2 separate regions of the Homo sapiens genome follow, and region 1 is linked to region 2. Evidence: fine-mapped expression QTL. Tissue or cell type: whole blood. Region 2 holds a variant in brackets; the other region holds the start of a gene. All regions are shown on one strand. Distances are from middle to middle.

What was found. PIP is the estimated chance that this variant, and not a neighbour inherited with it, causes the effect.
Region 1: SLC18B1 starts here. The variant in region 2 is fine-mapped to the expression of SLC18B1 in whole blood (TOPMed, PIP above 0.99).

What each region holds. Positions count from the first base shown.
Region 1 is chr6:132,794,355-132,802,538 of GRCh38, reverse strand. SLC18B1 (solute carrier family 18 member B1) reads left to right here and starts at 3,902. Exons shown (of 14, transcript NM_052831.3): 1 at 3,902-4,125; 2 at 5,418-5,557. The coding sequence starts at 4,083. RefSeq lists a silencer at 3,835-3,884 and an enhancer at 5,116-5,616.
Region 2 is chr6:132,824,143-132,832,326 of GRCh38, reverse strand. No RefSeq gene overlaps it. Among named protein-coding and RNA genes, the nearest start is that of SNORA33, 11 kb to the right of the region's middle. The variant G/A (reference allele first, on the strand shown) is at 4,749.

The DNA.
Region 1 (8,184 bases), 30 kb after region 2:
CCTGAGGTTGAGAGTTTGAGACCAGGCTGACCAACATGGAGAAACCCTGTCTCTACTAAAAATACAAAATTAACTGGGCATGGTGGCGCATGCCTGTAGTCCCAGCTACTCAGGAAGCTGAGGCAAGAGAATCGCTTGAACCTAGGAGGTGGAGGTTGTGGTGAGCCAAGATAGCACTATTGTGCTCCAGCCTGGGCAACAAGAGTGAAACTCCATCTCAAAAAAAAAAAAAAAAAAAAAAATGAATGAATTTCTTGGCCAGGTATGGTGGCTTACGGCAGTAATCCCAGCACTTTGGGGAACCAGGGCAGATGGATTGCTTGAGTCCAGGAGATTGACACCAGCCTGGGCAACATGGTGAAACCTCATCTCTATTATTAAATAAATAAATAATAAAAAAGAATGAATTTCTCTGAGGAGGTGGCATTTAAACAAAGACCATATTACTCCATTTTAGTTTGTAAAGAAACAAATATTCCATATGTGTATGAATGTCTAAATGAGCATATCAAACTATGAATAGATAATTGTGGTAGGCTGATAATGGATTCCAAAGATACGTCCACATCCTAATCCCTGGAACCTGTAAATGTTACCTTATATGAAAAAAAGGGTCTGTGCAGATGTGACTAAATTGGAGAACTTGAGATGAAGAGGTCATCCTGGATTATCCAGGTGGGCCCTAAATTCATTCAAAATATCCTTACAAGAGACTGGCAAACGAAGATTACACACAGAAAAGAAGAGGCACAGTGATCACAGAAACAGAGACTACAGTGATGTGGCACAAAATGCCAATAGTCACTAGAAGCTTCAAGGGGCAAGAAACAGACTCTTCCCTAGAGCTTCTAGAGGGAACATGATCCTGCTGACACCTTGATTTTGGCTCAGTGAAACTGATGTTGAACTTCTGGCTTTGAGGACCTTGTTTTAAGCTATCAAATTTGTGTTGATTTGTACAGCAGCCCCAGAAAACTAACACAATAATATATTTGATTATAAAACTGATTATCTGAAGGGAGAATGAGAGGTAGAGATTACAAGAGGAGCGGAGGATAGGGATATGAATAGACTTTATGTAAATTAAAAGTAGATGGACACATAAGAACATAGATTTTTTTGAGAACATAAAGAACAAGATTTGCATTAAACATGCAAGAATTATTGCAAATGGGGAGAGGAATGAGAATGGAGATACAAGGAAATAGATGGCAACAGAAATGAAACATTCAATTGGCAAGATACAGTTGGCAAGATTCAGTTGGCAAAAATTCAGATGGCAAGATACAGTTAGGGATACTTCCTATAACATGGAGGAAAAAAAAAGAAAAAATAATAACTAGCCAGGTGTGGTGGCACAGGCCTATAGTCCCACCTACTCGGGAGGCTGAGGTGGGAGGATCAGTTGAGCTCAGGAATTTGAGGTTGCAGTGAGCCATTATATGTCATGGTAGCTTGGGAAACAGAGTGAGACCCTGTCTAAAAAAAATAAAATAAAATAAAAGAGAGAAGAAAAAGAGAAATAAGTAAAAGGACCAGTTTGGGTGACCCAACATTCACATAAAGTGCAGTCCAGAAAGAAAATAAAAGAGGAAATGTAATCATCAAAGAAATCATTCAAGAAAATTTCCCTCTACAGATTGATGTTAGATTGAAGAGAAAGCATAGAGTTAAATGAGATTGGAGAAGCTGTCAGGGGTTAGATCATAAAGATTTCATAAGGCTACTTTAGGGAAACTTTGCTAGATTGGAACTTTCTTTTCTTTTCTTTTTTTTTTTTTTTTTTTTTTTTTGAGATGGAGTTTCACTCTTGTTGCCCAGGCTGGAGCACAATGGTGCTGTCTTGGCTCACCACAACCTCTGCCTCCTAGGTTCAAGCGATTCTCCTGCCTCAGCTTCCCGAGTAGCTGGGACTACAGGCATGCGCCACCATGCCCAGCTAATTTTGTATTTTTAGTAGAGACAGGGTTTCTCCATGTTGGTCAGCCTGGTCTCAAACTCTCGACCTCAGGTGATTTGCCTGCCTCGGCCTCCCAAAGTGCTAGGATTACAGGCGTGAGCCACAGCACCTGGCTTAGAGTGGAACTTTCTGTTCAGAGTGGTTCTCTAGGTTCTCCTTTACAACTTGCCCACTGGGGAATTTTTTTTTTTTTTTTTTTGAGATGGAGTCTCGCTCGGTTGCCCAGGCTGGAGTGCAATGGCATGATCTCTGCTCACTGCAACCTCCGAGTCCCAGGTTCAAGCGATTCTCCTGCCTCAGTCTCCTGAGTAGCTGGGTGCCATCATGCCCAGCTAATTTTTGTATTTTTGTAGAGACGGGGTTTCACCGTGTTGGTCAGGCAGGTCTCGAACTTCTGACCTCGTGACCCGCCCACCTCGGCCTCCCAAAGTGCTGGGATTACAGGCGTGAGCCACCGCGCCCGGCCCTCACTGGGGAGTTTTTACATAACCTTCAAGAACCAAGGTAACATCACTTCCTCAGGAAGTCATCCAGGACCCATTTGCCAAAGTAAATGGTTCTTCCAATATGTTTGTATACAACCGATTGCATTATAGTAGATTATTAATTAGTGTGAATTTCATCTGCTAGAAGGTGTGCTACTTGAGGGCAGAGTCTGGATGGGGCTCATTCCTCTTTAAATTCATAATGCCTGGCACAAAGTGGTAACTCAGTCTTTTGTTTTGCTTTGGCTTCAAAACAAGAATTTCCCAGTCCTTAAACTTTATTTATTTATTTGAGACAGAGTTTCGCTTTTTCACCCAGGCTGGAATGAGGTGGCACAGTAATTACAAACTTACTATCAGCCATACTGTGTACTGGAACTGACCTTGTACAGTGGATCTGAGGCAGATTCTCAGTCGATAAAGCTACCCTCACACAATTCTTTTGGATCTTGGCTCACTGTAACCTCCGCCTCCCAGGTTCAAACGATTCTCCTGCCTCAGCCTCCCTAGTAGCTGGGATTACAGGTGCCTGCCACCACGCCTGGCTGATTTTTTTGTATTTTTATAGTAGAGACAGGGTTTCACCATGTTGGCCGGGCTGGTCTAGAACTCCTGACCTCAGGTGAGCTGCCCACCTCGGCCTCCCAAACTGCTGGGATTACAGGCATGAGCCACCGTGTCCAGCCAGTCCTCGAGCTTTAACACTTCCCAAATAGTAAATACGGTGAAAATAAGTGAAACCTATTTTTTATGCAAGAAAACTGTGAGTGTGAGAGTAAGGTAGCAGCCATCATGTTCATGTGCTAACTACTAACACACTTTATCGCCAATGCTCACAGCCGCCCTACGAGATAAACATTATAATCTCAGTTGTACAGGTAGAGAAACTGACCTTGTCATCCAAAGTTACACACTGCCAGCAAGTGCCCTGGCTTGAATCCCTGGCACCTGCCTCCAGAGGTCGCACTCCTAGCCACTTCGCCATGCTTCCTCGATATTCATTAGTATTCTTGCAAATATTTTTCGACTCCAGGTGCTTCACATAGGTTAATTCATTTCCGGTTCAATAGTGTCTGGCTTCAGTAATTACGAACACTACCGCATTTACCCACTGTGAAAAATAATTCACTCTTTCAAAGTTCCTGTATAACCTAATTTTCTAATTCACTTTTGTGTCTTTCAGTTGAGGTACTCCCTGCCTTTTCTGTGTCTACATAAGCTTCCTTTCTTTCGTTTCGTAGGAATAAATTGAACTTATTTTAAGATTGAGGGGGGTACAGCTGTATGGAATATAGACTCATCTTTTTTCACTCTCTGTCACAGAATGAAAAAGGACACCATGATATAGCAGCTGAGGTGGTGGATTAAGATAATGAGGCGGGGGGGGGGCGCAAAACAAAAAAAAAAGGAGCCTTGCTCCACCCCTGCCCCGCCCCCGGCCTCCTCCCGGGGACCCAGAGTCCTGGAAGGCTTTGGGGAGCTCCGGGCCGGGCGGATCGCTGCCTGCAGGGAGTCGGGGATGCCAGGTTCCAGCTGAGCAGCGGCCGCCCGCCAGAGTGCCAGTGGCTCCTTGGAGGTCGAGTCCAAGGACGTGGCTTGAAGCCGGGAGCTGGGGCGCCGGAGTCCACGCACCGGGGATGGAGGCGCTGGGTGACCTGGAGGGACCACGCGCACCAGGAGGTGACCATGAATTGCGTGGCCGGGAGCCCGGAGACCAGCGGCGGCTTCCGGCGTGTCTCTTTAGCAACGATTGAATTGCTTATAGCTTGATCTGTTTCCGAGAGATTGGAAAAGGCTGGGGCCTGATCGTGGGGTTCGGGCCAGCGTTTCTTTTCTCTCTGGACGGGGTAAAGTTCCAGGATTGGATATGTGTCACGGTTTCTAATGACTTTCTAACCTATACCTCTGCTTTTTAAGTACTGTGTGTTTAATGCATTCAAATAAGTATGCCATTAGGCAAATGTAAAACGTTACCTTTCAAGTACCCATTGTTGTTGCCTTTCTTTTTAACTTTCATTTCCCTTTCTCATCTACTACAAACATTTTACAAAGATTCGTAAGACTTCCTCATGTTGCACTGATTTTTTTTTTCCTTCTGGACTGCAATGGCAACCTCTGACAAATAGAGCAAAGCAAATGTATTTCTCTTAAGTTTTTCCTAAAAACAATTTAATTTATAAATGGCTGATGGATTTGCTTGGATATTTGGAACTCAGTAATTGATTTCGTGTTTTTAAATGACAATTTAGCCCTGGAAATAAGTGTTAAATTAACTGATGTAAAAGACCAGTAATTAGGGTAAAAAAAAAGTATTTATTTATGAATTTGTGGGACTTGTCTATCCAGAAGCATACCGCTGTAAATATTAATTCACCAGCTGAATGATTTAGCTTGTTTTCTCCTACTTACACTTCATTTGACTTCAATACTGCCTTAGAAATCTTTGTTTTTTGTTTTTGTTTTTGTTTTTGTTTGTTTGTTTTGTTTTGCTTTTTTGAGACGGAGTCTCTCTCTGTAGCCCAGGCTGGAGTGCAGTGGTGCGATCTTGGCTCACTGCAAGCTCCGCCTCCCGGGTTCACGCCATTCTCCTGCCTCAGCCTCCCGAGTAGCTGGGATACAGGGGCCCGCCACCACGCCCGGCTAATTTTTTGTATTTTTAGTAGAGACGGGGTTTCACCGTGTTAGCCAGGATGGTCTCGATCTCCTGACCTCGTGATCCGCCTGCCTCGGCCTCCCAAAGTTCTGGGATTACAGGCGTGAGCCACCGTGCCCAGCCGAAAGCAGTACGTTTTCAAAACGGCAGTAATGTACAAGGATTGTGTTCCATTTGATCAAATGTGCTATATTCAAAATAGCCCTAAGCTTAGCAAATGATATCTTCAGAGTGCAACATATGTGCACAGAAATCACATTTGTGTACTTTAATCAGTAGTCTCAATTATATGCCTAATTGCTGCATGTTTGCATTCAAGGTGATGATCCTGCAGGAAGTGCAGGAGAGACCCCCGGGTGGCTTTCGAGAGAACAGGTTTTTGTACTGATATCGGCAGCTTCGGTGAACTTAGGTTCCATGATGTGCTATTCTATACTTGGACCGTTTTTCCCCAAAGAGGTAAGACATTTTTAAATCCTTAGGACCTCTGTTTTTTTGTTTGTTTGTTTTTTAAAAGCCTTTTGAATTATTTTATTTTATAGTATATAAAATGTAAAAATCTGCATATAGGACAGATGGTGTATAGAACTCCAGCCAATAGAATACTTCTTATAGAATGCCTGATACCAGGAAAAAAAATCCAGTCAAAAAGAACATCTTCTTGGGAGGTAATTCACCTAAAAGTAGTTGATCTTCTGAGAATTACTTTTCTTACCATGTAGTCTGATTAATCTTTATTTGGTTTCTGCAACTGAAACAAAGGAGTGCACTGAATAACTGAGATTCAAATGTTACTGCAATAGGTCTGTGTTAAGACAGTAACTATTTTCTCGAGGTTTTATTCACATTTTAGAATTAGGACGTTTTGATTCCCGACCCCCCTTCCTTTTTTTTTTTTTTTTTTTTTTCCTTTCGAGACAGGGTTTCGCTCTTGTTGCCCAGGCTGGAGTGCAATGTTGTGATCTTGGCTCACTGCAACCTCTGCCTCCCGGGTTCAATTGATTCTCCTGCCTCAGCCTCCCGAGTAGCTGGGATTACAGGCGCCTACCACCACGTCCGGGTAATTTTTTTTTTTTTTTTTTTTTTGAGATGGAGTCTCGCACTCTCGCCCAGGCTGGAGTGCAGTGGCGCGATCTCGGCTCACTGCAAGCTCCGCCTCCTGAGTTCACGCCATTCTCCTGCCTCAGCCTCCCAAGTAGCTGGGACTACAGGTACCCGCCACTACGCCCAGCTAATTTTTTTTTTTGTATTGTTTTAGTAGAGACGGGGTTTCACCGTGTTAGCCAGGATGGTCTCCATCTCCTGACCTCATGATCTGCCCGCCTCCGCCTCCCGAAGTGCTGGGATTACAGGCGTGAGTCACCGTGCCCGGCCGAATTTTTGTATTTTTAGTAGAGACAGGTTTTTGCCATGTTGGGCAGTCTGGCTTCGATCTCCTGACCTCAGGTGATCTGCTTACCTTGGCCTCCCAAAGTGCTGGGATAACAGGCGTGAGCCACCACGCCCAGCCCCGGCCCCGCTCCATATTCCCTCTTTTGACTTTAATTTCTTATGGACTCTAGCGCCAATGTTTATGCAAGGGAGGAATTCTGATTAATAGGGCCTATTCCTTCTAGGCATAGCCTTTTATATGGTGTTAAGATTTATAGCTAATGACACAGATTCAAAGATAATAATCCCTAGAAAGTCCAACTGGATTCTAGACGTCAATAGGATATAGTATGAAATGAATATGACTGGCTTGGAGTGTAGACAACATATCCATGTGTTTTATTTTGTGCTTTTTGCCAAATCCTTGGCTCACAGTGCAGTGGAAGCTTGTTAGTCCTCCAACTGCCTTTTAAACATGTAGTCCTTCGTTCTGTGTGTTACAAAAGAAGATAAAGTGGCTTCTCTGCTAAAGGAACAATATTGCCATGTACCCATACAGTGCTCTCTGGCTTCTAGTACACATTACCCCTTATTTATCCATTTAATCCCCGCAACAACCTCATACAGAATCTTGAGAATCTCAGCATGTTGCAAATGAAGAAACGGTCTCAGAAGTTGTGACTTGCCCAATTCAGTTCTATTAACTAGAGGTTTAATGAGTCCCTTCTCTAGAGCAGGCTAAGCATGGGATGTGTTAGGGTAGTATAAAAAAATCAGGGAAATGGCTTTCTCTTGTCTGCCCTTTGGGAGTGAAAAAATATGGGAAAAAAAAGGTTCCAATAATTTGGATATCCCTTAAGAAAAGGATGTCCAGAATGTTATAAGACTGTTTTTTTTTTTCTTTTTTTAAATCATTTTCTTCTGGCTTCCCTCTATCCATACTAATGTTATGAGAGCCTAGAAAGAAGAATGGTTAATTCTGCCATACATGGAGTGTGGATAGCAGAAGAAAGGGCGTTACTGAAAGGAACTTTCAGGCTAAATCTAAGTTGGGGCTTTTTTTTTGAGACAGGGTTTCACTCTGTCATCGAGGCTGAAAGTACAGTGGCATGATCAGAGTTCACTGCTGCCTCAACTTCCCAGGCTCAAGAGATCCTTTCGCCTCAGCCCCCTGAGGAGCTGGGGCACAGGCATGTGCCACCACGCCTAGCTATTTTTTTCTATTTTTAGTAGAGATGGGGTTTCACCATGTTGCCCAGGCTGATGTTGAGCTCCTGAGCTCAAGCAATCCGTCCACCATGTTGGCCAGGCCTCTCAAATGCTGGGATTACAGGTGTGAGCCACCGCACCTGGCCTAAGGTGGGCCCTAAGAAGTGTTAATTCTTATGGTGAACAACAGAGATGGAGGTGTTCTAGGTATAGTCACAGGAAGAGCAGAGTGAATGGCATGTTCCTGGGGAACAACAGACAGCTTCTTGATGTGGCTTGAGCCTGGGGTGAAGTGAGGTCTAATAGGAGACAGTGGATCTGAGGAGGCAGGCCTAAGATAGAAAGGAAGGGCACTTGTCAAGGACTTAGTCAGTGGGCAGTCATCAGAGGTGTTTGAGCAAGAAAGAGCAGTCTGGCCAGACTTGGGATTTTTAAATAATAATAATAACAATAATAATGCCAGGCATGGTGGCTCACGCCTGTAATCCCAGCACTTTGGGAGGCTG
Region 2 (8,184 bases):
TCATCTCATCCTCACAAAAACGTTATGAGACAGGTATTATTATAACTATTTTAGAGAAAAAAACATGAGGTTCATATAAGTGAAATGACTTCTCTGTTGTTTCACAATCAGTAACTGCCAAAGCAGGATTCACATCCAAGCTCCCCTGACTATAAAGCCAGTGTATGTTGACCAACCACAAAATGAGAGAGAGAAAGAGAGAGAGATACAGATACAGGTACAGACACAGACATCTTAAAAGCCCTTGCATTCACCTCTCTGAGTTATCACTTTTCAAAGGCCTTAGTATGGACACCATAAGAATCTCCAATCTGATGCTCAGTGGTTGGCCCTACAAATAGACCAAGACTCTGTCAAATATCACATTTTAAAGCCCTTAGCATGTCAAAGAGGGTTAAAAATTAGTACCAGTGTCCTTGTTCACAATTACTTAATGAGAAGGCAGAACATATTGAAAAAGAAAAGTGAAAAATGTTTCAAGATCAGTTTTGCCCTCCCCACTATTTATGGAGCCCAGGATAAACCTCTGACTGCATTATGATTAAACATCTATGGTTTTCATTTATTCAAACTCACACTCAAGTCATTATTTCTGATATAGTAGCCCTGCCAGTTGACATAAGCTGCCAAGTGGTAGACTAAATTTCAGGTTCACGTTTGAATCTCTGGTGAACCCATAAAAGCTATATTTATGTATGTGATAGCCTTGGATTTTAATGGAAAAATGGTTAGCATATTAATAAAATGTTCTGCTTAGTACATACAAGTCAAATTTATGCCAACATGGAAAGGTTGCTTTCTCAAAAGAGAAAAAAAAAAGCAATCATAGCCTGAAGCAGATTATGTGCAGATATGAGGAAATTAAAGCTCAGATGTTAGTTAAAATGAACAACAAAAATCCACATTTTAAAAATAGGGTTTGGAGAAATATCTCCTAAACAAGGCTCCTAAGAATATAGAATTTAAAATGAAGATAAAGGCTGGAAGGCAAGTCTCCATTCAAAGAATGGAGACAATTTTTAAATCTTTTCTTTGAATTTTTGAATAATTCTTTGAATCTTTTCTTCCTTAACCAGGGTTAAAGGTCTAATATCAGCATCAAGGAAACTTCTATTTAGGCCTTTATTTCTCTTCTTTTACTTAAAGTTAATAAAATTTTTGATTTTCCAAGTGGCTGGTTAGATTTCCTGAAAGAAGCTAAGAAAGACTATTCCAAATTTTTCACAAACAAAACATAAGTAAATTTATTTACAGATATATAAAAAAATTCAACAAAATAAACCCAGTTTGTATATTACAGATCTGTGTTCCTTAGAAGTTGCTTCCTCAAGGAGAGGTATCCAATTGACATGAAAAACGAGCTGAGGCCTTGAGGTCCATGGATTTACCAATCTAATATTTTATCTCCTGCATTAACAGTTGTAGCAGATATCAGTAGTTTGGATCATGTATGTATTTTTTTGACCTGAGACCCAAGTTCCATATTATTATTAATGTATGCTTAGAAATTTGAGAAGAAATAAAGAAAATGAGTGTCTAGTGTTCTTAGAAAATTACTACTCCATAAAAAAACAGAGATTAAAAATCCTACAGCTGTAGAGCCAAGCTCTTTGTTATGCATGCACAGCTTTCTAAATCCCATAAAAATCTCAACATCTGACCCATTTCACTTTTACAGGGGAAGGGCCTGTTACACTGGAAAATATGCGTAAAAATCTGCAGCATTCAGAGGCATTAAACAGTTTTATTTCACATTTGTTTCCTATGTACCCTACATAGGAAACATACATTCCTCTGTTCTATGTACATTGTAGCACCTGCTGCTAAATCTCTACTCTCCATCAGCTCCCAGCCTTCTCTTTTCAGAAGGGATTGAGTGTCTTTTTGAACGGCTGAAGTAATGCTGCCATCTCCTGTTTGCTGGATAGAATGTAATGAAATTACCCTCGAAAGGAATGAAAAGTAAAATTGGATAAAACTACAAACTAGAGACTGTTGGCTCTTTTATAAATTTTCTCTAGCCATAGATTAAAAACCAATCTTATTCAAATTGACAATGTCATAATAATGTCTTAAATTTGATATGTCTTTAAATAAAAGTTATTCTAAAGAAATTTTGGTCCTTATCTAAACATTAAATTGGTACTTCACCTCATTTTTCAGAATATTGCTCTCCTCATGTTACCTAAATTTCAGTCATTTATTTTTTACAATGTAAACATGAAAAAAGTAAACTTTAAAAATAATAACCATATATATTAAGTTTTAATATTAGCTAAAGTGTTCTCAGGAAATTGATTTATCACCAACAGTCTCAAATTTAGAATACTCACAGAGAGTATGAGGAAGGCAAAAGTTAACCAAAACAGTAGAAATCACTGTCTTATTTTGGAATTTTACCAAAGTAGATACAAATAATAAAGTAACTTTAAAAAAATAAACTTTAAAAATTTATTTTTACCTCTAACTCTTAGAATCTGAAAACATATCCACTAGGGAAGTCCATGTCTTCAAAAATACATAGATTTTCTTTTGCTCTTATTCTTGCTATAAATCTCTTGGGCATTAATGTGATCATGTTCCCCAGGTTTTTGTGAATAGGAATAGCATTCTAGTTGAGGATGAGAATCTGTGTTTTAGGCTGACTAGTTAAAGAGATCCTTAAGAGACATTCTCTTTTCCAATTACAAACATCAGCATTCTGCTGACAGGGTCTCAGAAGAATGTGTACTTAACCCAGTATTATATTTAAAAGCCCAATTCCCCTTACAATCAATTATAGGTAGCAACACTCCTCATTTAAAGTTATTATAACCGCTTCTAAAAATTAATTCTTATTTGTTTATTTCATGGCAAGGCAAAGCAGCTGCTGTAATCTTTTATAAAATGTACCCTCATCATACACTTCCAGACTGGTTTTCTTCAAATCACTGTTTTCTGGGCAAATAGCTCCCCTTCTCTTCCCTTTTCTTTAAACGTGTCTCCTTGGCCTTATTAATTCACCTGTGTTGCTCCCCTACTGAAGGCTTGACAAGACTCAGTGTTGTAGATCCCTCTTTCTGGAGAATTCACCATGCTGAACCACTGTTGTTGGTCTGGATAGTACGAAATAAGTAGAGATCAGGAAAATATTGCACAGTTTTTGCACAGCAAACCTCAGAAGTGCAGAGCATTGCAAATGAATGGCTTATGGAATACTATGTTTGTACATTTGAGTTTTAGCTTTGTATAAACAGTTTTCTTCCAAATCTCTACATGCCTTTTGTGGAAGCTACCTACCAATTTATAAAATATAATTCTTCAGGGCTGGGCACGGTGGCTCACGCCTGTAATCCCAGCACTTTGGGAGGCCAAGGCGGGTGGATCACGAGGTCAGGAGATCAAGACCATCCTGGCTAACATGGTGAAACCCTGTCTCTACTAAAATACAAAAACCTAGCTGGGTGTGGTGGTGTGTGCCCGTAGTCCCAGCTACTTGGGAGGCTGAGGCAGGGGAATCACTTGAACCTGGGAGGTGGAGGTTGCAGCAAGCCAAGATCACGCCACTGCACCCCAGCCTGGCGACAGAGCAAGACTCTGTCTAAAAATAATAATAATAATAATCCTTCTACTTATATTAAATACAAACAATTCTAATATTCGACAAAATGGCAAATCCTATAATCAGTCAGTTTACCCAATGTTCAAAGGCTTCTTGGGTCATGTCCTGGAACTTGGGGTTCTATCTTCTCATTTGGAAAATGAAGGAATCAAACTAGACCATTTCTCAAATCTCTTCCATCTTAAAAACTCAGACTCGGCCAGGCGCAGTGGCTCACACCTGTAATCCCAGCACTTTGGAAGGCCAAGGCAGGCAGATTACCTGAGGTCAGGAGTTCGAGACCAGCCTGATCAACATGGTGAAACCCCGTCTTTATTAAAAATACAAAAAAATTAGCTGGGCATGGTGGTGCACGCCTGTAGTCCCAGCTGCTTGGGAGGCTGAGGCAGGAGAATTGCTTGAACTCGGGGGGCAGAGGTTGCAGTGAGCCGTGATAGCAACACTGAACTCCAGCCTGGGCGGCAGAGTGAAACTCCGTCTCAAGAAAAAAACAAACAAACAAACAAAAAACAGAAAAACCTCAGACTCTAATTCCAGTAGAATCTGCAGTGGAAAAATATTGTCACATCAGGCCTAAATTCTCTAGAGGCAAGAGAAAGCATGTTCTCCAGAAACACAGGAAAGAAAGTAGGAAGGTCACATTTTGGTCTGGCCATATAATTACTTCTAGAAAATAACAAAACCAATAATGATAATAGAGACAAGGTGGCTGCTGACACTCAGGAAAATCACAATTGTCATTAATATTTATTTACCTTTGGTGACAGTATTAAAGAAGATCACTTATGTCATTAAGAAGAATACTATAATAGTTTGGGTTGTTTGCTTTAATTCCCTGAATTTTGCATCTTTTAACAATAAGCTAACTTTGGGAAATGATCATCATAAACATAAATATACCTTCTTGTTTTATATTAAATGGTTAGTCTTAAATAAACCCTTGTATTATGTAAGAGTCCTTCCACCATGGTAGACTCTCTTCAAAAGACTAAAATAAAAAATGAAGCAATTTGGGAATCCCCTAAGATAACAAGATGTTATTATAAAATAAATCCCCATTATTTATTTGCACAATTATTTAACTATTATTATCAAGTCACTGAAGTAGAAATCAAAGAGTCTATAGAATTCTGGAATCACAGAACAA[G/A]GTTAAAAGGAGCTGGCTTACATGATCTTCCACTCAACTCTACTGAGTTTTGTTATTATTTACATATTATTTATATGTTGGGGCCAGGCACGGTGGCTCACACCTATAATTTCAGCACTTTGAGAGGCCAAAGTGGGTGCATCACCTGAGGTCAGGAGTTTGAGACCAGCCTAGCCAATATGGTGAAACCCCGTCTCTACTAAAAATGCAAAAATTAGCTGGGTGTGGTGGCTTATGCCTGTAATCCCAGCTACTCGGGAGGCTGAGGCAGGAGAATCGCTTGAACCTGGGAGGTGGAGGCTGCAGTGAGCTGAGATCATGCCACTGAATTCCAGCCCGGGTGACAGAGCAAGACTCCATCTCAAAAGAAAAAACAAATAAATAAAATAATATACATATATTATTTTTTGTTTGTCTTCCAATTTAGATAAGGCAATATAAATATTATTAAATATATTGCTTTTTTTTTTTTTTTTTTTGAGACGGAGTCTCGCTCTGTCACCCAGGCTGGAGTGCCGTGGCGCGATCTTGGCTCACTGCAAGCTCCGCCTCCCGGGTTCACGCCATTCTCCTGCCTCAGCCTCCGGAATAGCTGGGACTAGAGGCGCCCACCATCATGCCCGGCTAATTTTTTTGTATTTTTAGTAGAGACGGGGTTTCATCGTGTTAACCAGGATGGTCTCGATCTCCTGACCTCGTGATCCGCCCGCCTCTGCCTCCCAAAGTGCTGGGATTACAGGCGTGAGCCACCGCGCCCGGCCCTAATTTTCAAATTAGAATGTCTTAGTAGGAGAATAGAGTTAAAGTGCACAGGTAGAGGAACATTTTATTTGCTGCCTTAAAGATTTTCAGCACAAGTACAAATCCGTGAACTGACAATGATTGTAAGTTCTTTTCACTTCAATAAAATGCTATTTCAATTGAGACTTTCTGTGATCTCCAGAGAAAACAGTTACTCAGTTCTATCCAATGCAGTGAAAGTGGAATCAGTCAGATAATATTCAGTTTATTTACATTTTCTTTTTTTTTTTTTCGAAACAGAGTCTCGCTCTGTGGCCAGGCTGGAGTGCAGTGGCACAATCTCGGCTCACTGCAACCTCCGCCTCCCGGGTTCAAGTGATTCTCCTGCCTCAGTCTCCTGAGTAGCTGGGACTACAGGCACCCGCCACCACGCCTAGCTAATTTTTGTCTTTTTATTAAAGATGGGGTTTCACCATGTTGGCCAAGATGGTCTCGATCTCTTGACCTCGTGATCCATCCGCTTCAGCCTCCCAAAGTGCTAGGATTACAGGCATGAGCCACCGCACCCGGCCTATTTATATTTATTTTCAACTAACGATTGCATCAAGCTGAATTTCCAAAATAAAAAGTGAATGCTGGCATTTTGTTTTCATTTTTTAACTTGAGAAAATCACCAGCGTGGGGCAAAAAAAATAACAAGAATCCTCTGTACTAATTTATAGTGACCTGAACATTTTTCTCTCCCTCTGTCTCCCTCCCTCTCCATCCCTCCCTCACTTTCTCTGTCTCTTTTTCCCACTGCCTCCTCCCCAACACCAGCAAGAAATACAGCTTTTTTTTTTTTTTTTTTTTGGAGATGGAGTCTCATTCTGTCACCCAGGCTGCAGTGCAACCTCTGCCTGTCAGGTTCAAGTGATCCTCCCACCTCAGCCTCCTGAATAGCTGGGATACAGGCATGTGCCACCGTGCCTGGCTAATTTTTGTATTTTTAGTAGACACAGGGTTTAATCATGCTGGCCAGGCTGGTCTTGAACTCCTGACCTCAGGTGATCTGCCCACCGCCTCAGCCTCCCAAAGTGCTGGGATTACAGGCATGAGCCACTGCACCCAGCCTAATACTTCTGCTTTTAAAGCATTACCTCCATTTGCTGCAAATAAACTTTGAACACGGACTTTAAAAGTGTCCCGTACTGGGATGTATTGGATTCATTGGCCAGGCAGGTTTCTGACTCACAAAAGGTCGTGTTGTTGCCCATTGCTATGACAGGAGAAACACCTTCGCAGTTTTACTGCAATATAGAAGTTTATTTGAAGACCAGCTCACTTCTTATCGGTTTTATTTTTACTGCAACCCAACACAGTAGTGTCAAACCAAAGTGACTGTTAAACTTCATCTGTCCTGTATTCTATACCGAGCATTTCCAGAAGGCAGCAGTGCAACCCAAAATACTTTGAATGAGACTCACTTCACGAGACAACACTAGGCAACAACAAAGTTAATATGACAAGTCCGCCTTTTATGCCTTGATGATGCTACTAAAAAATCTAACAGATTTATTGTATATCATTTCCTCTTCACATACAACTCTGAATTCTGCTTTTGCACTTTAGCATCGTTCACATTATGTTATCATTTTCATTATTTTAGAGTAAACTTTTCTAGAGTCTTCACATGATAGAAATTTGGAATATAATATTTTGAAAAGGATAATTTTATTTCAAAATGAAGCTTGTGGGGAAATGTAGAAAAGGTTTTAATTTCTTCTTAAATTATATGTGTATTTCCTCCTGAAAGAGTGGCATAGCTGCATCACGTTACGACCCTCGTGGGGCTAAGTACCTCCCTGCAAGACACAACATGTACCCATTTAGCAAAACATCTGCTGACTCCTAGAATCCATCAAGTTTATCCAGCTTCAAATCTACAGGAGAAGGCAGGCTTTTTAATTTGTAGCATTTTATATGCTAATATTTTATTTTCCCCTTATGGATCTCATATTTATTTTTTTTTAATGTGCATTTTGCTTCTTTTCACCTGGGGGCAGCACTGTGAAATATCACAGACCTTTGACTCGGTATTTCTCTAACGAGCCAACCAAGTACAAACAGGATTTTTATATCCATTTGTAAATTTTAGTTGGGGGTAGTTGAGAGAAGGAAAAATAAAAAGACAAATACTACATTTGTGTAAGGTTTAATTCACATCACTCATATAATTCCGTGCTGTTGGCATATGTCTCGATAAATAAGCTTCAAAAAAGAACTTATTGCAATGTAAAAATAGTTTCTCTGAATTCACATGCTTTTTACTGTTCCCAGGTCTCACAATGGCCTTTAAACGTATTTTTTCAGCTTCTTAGAGCCATGTACTCCATATTGTGATAGGATATGTTTCTATGCCCTGCTCCCTAGAGTGGAGCTGGAGAGAAAGGAAGTTGAGACAGCTTGGCTCCACACTCGACTCAAAGCAGCCCAACCTAGAGACTTACTTTCGTTGCCAGAGGAAAAGGAACCTTAAAAAATAGAGGGTGAAAAAAGGCTGAGGAGTTTAAGACTGAAAAGAAAGCCCACAAACAAACAATTGAAATATCTGAGTTCCTACTACACCACGCACTGTCCTAGGCACGGGAGATAAAGGCTCAGAACATAGATGATGCTTCCATGGAGCTATGGTGTGGAGAATTTAATCTCCAAA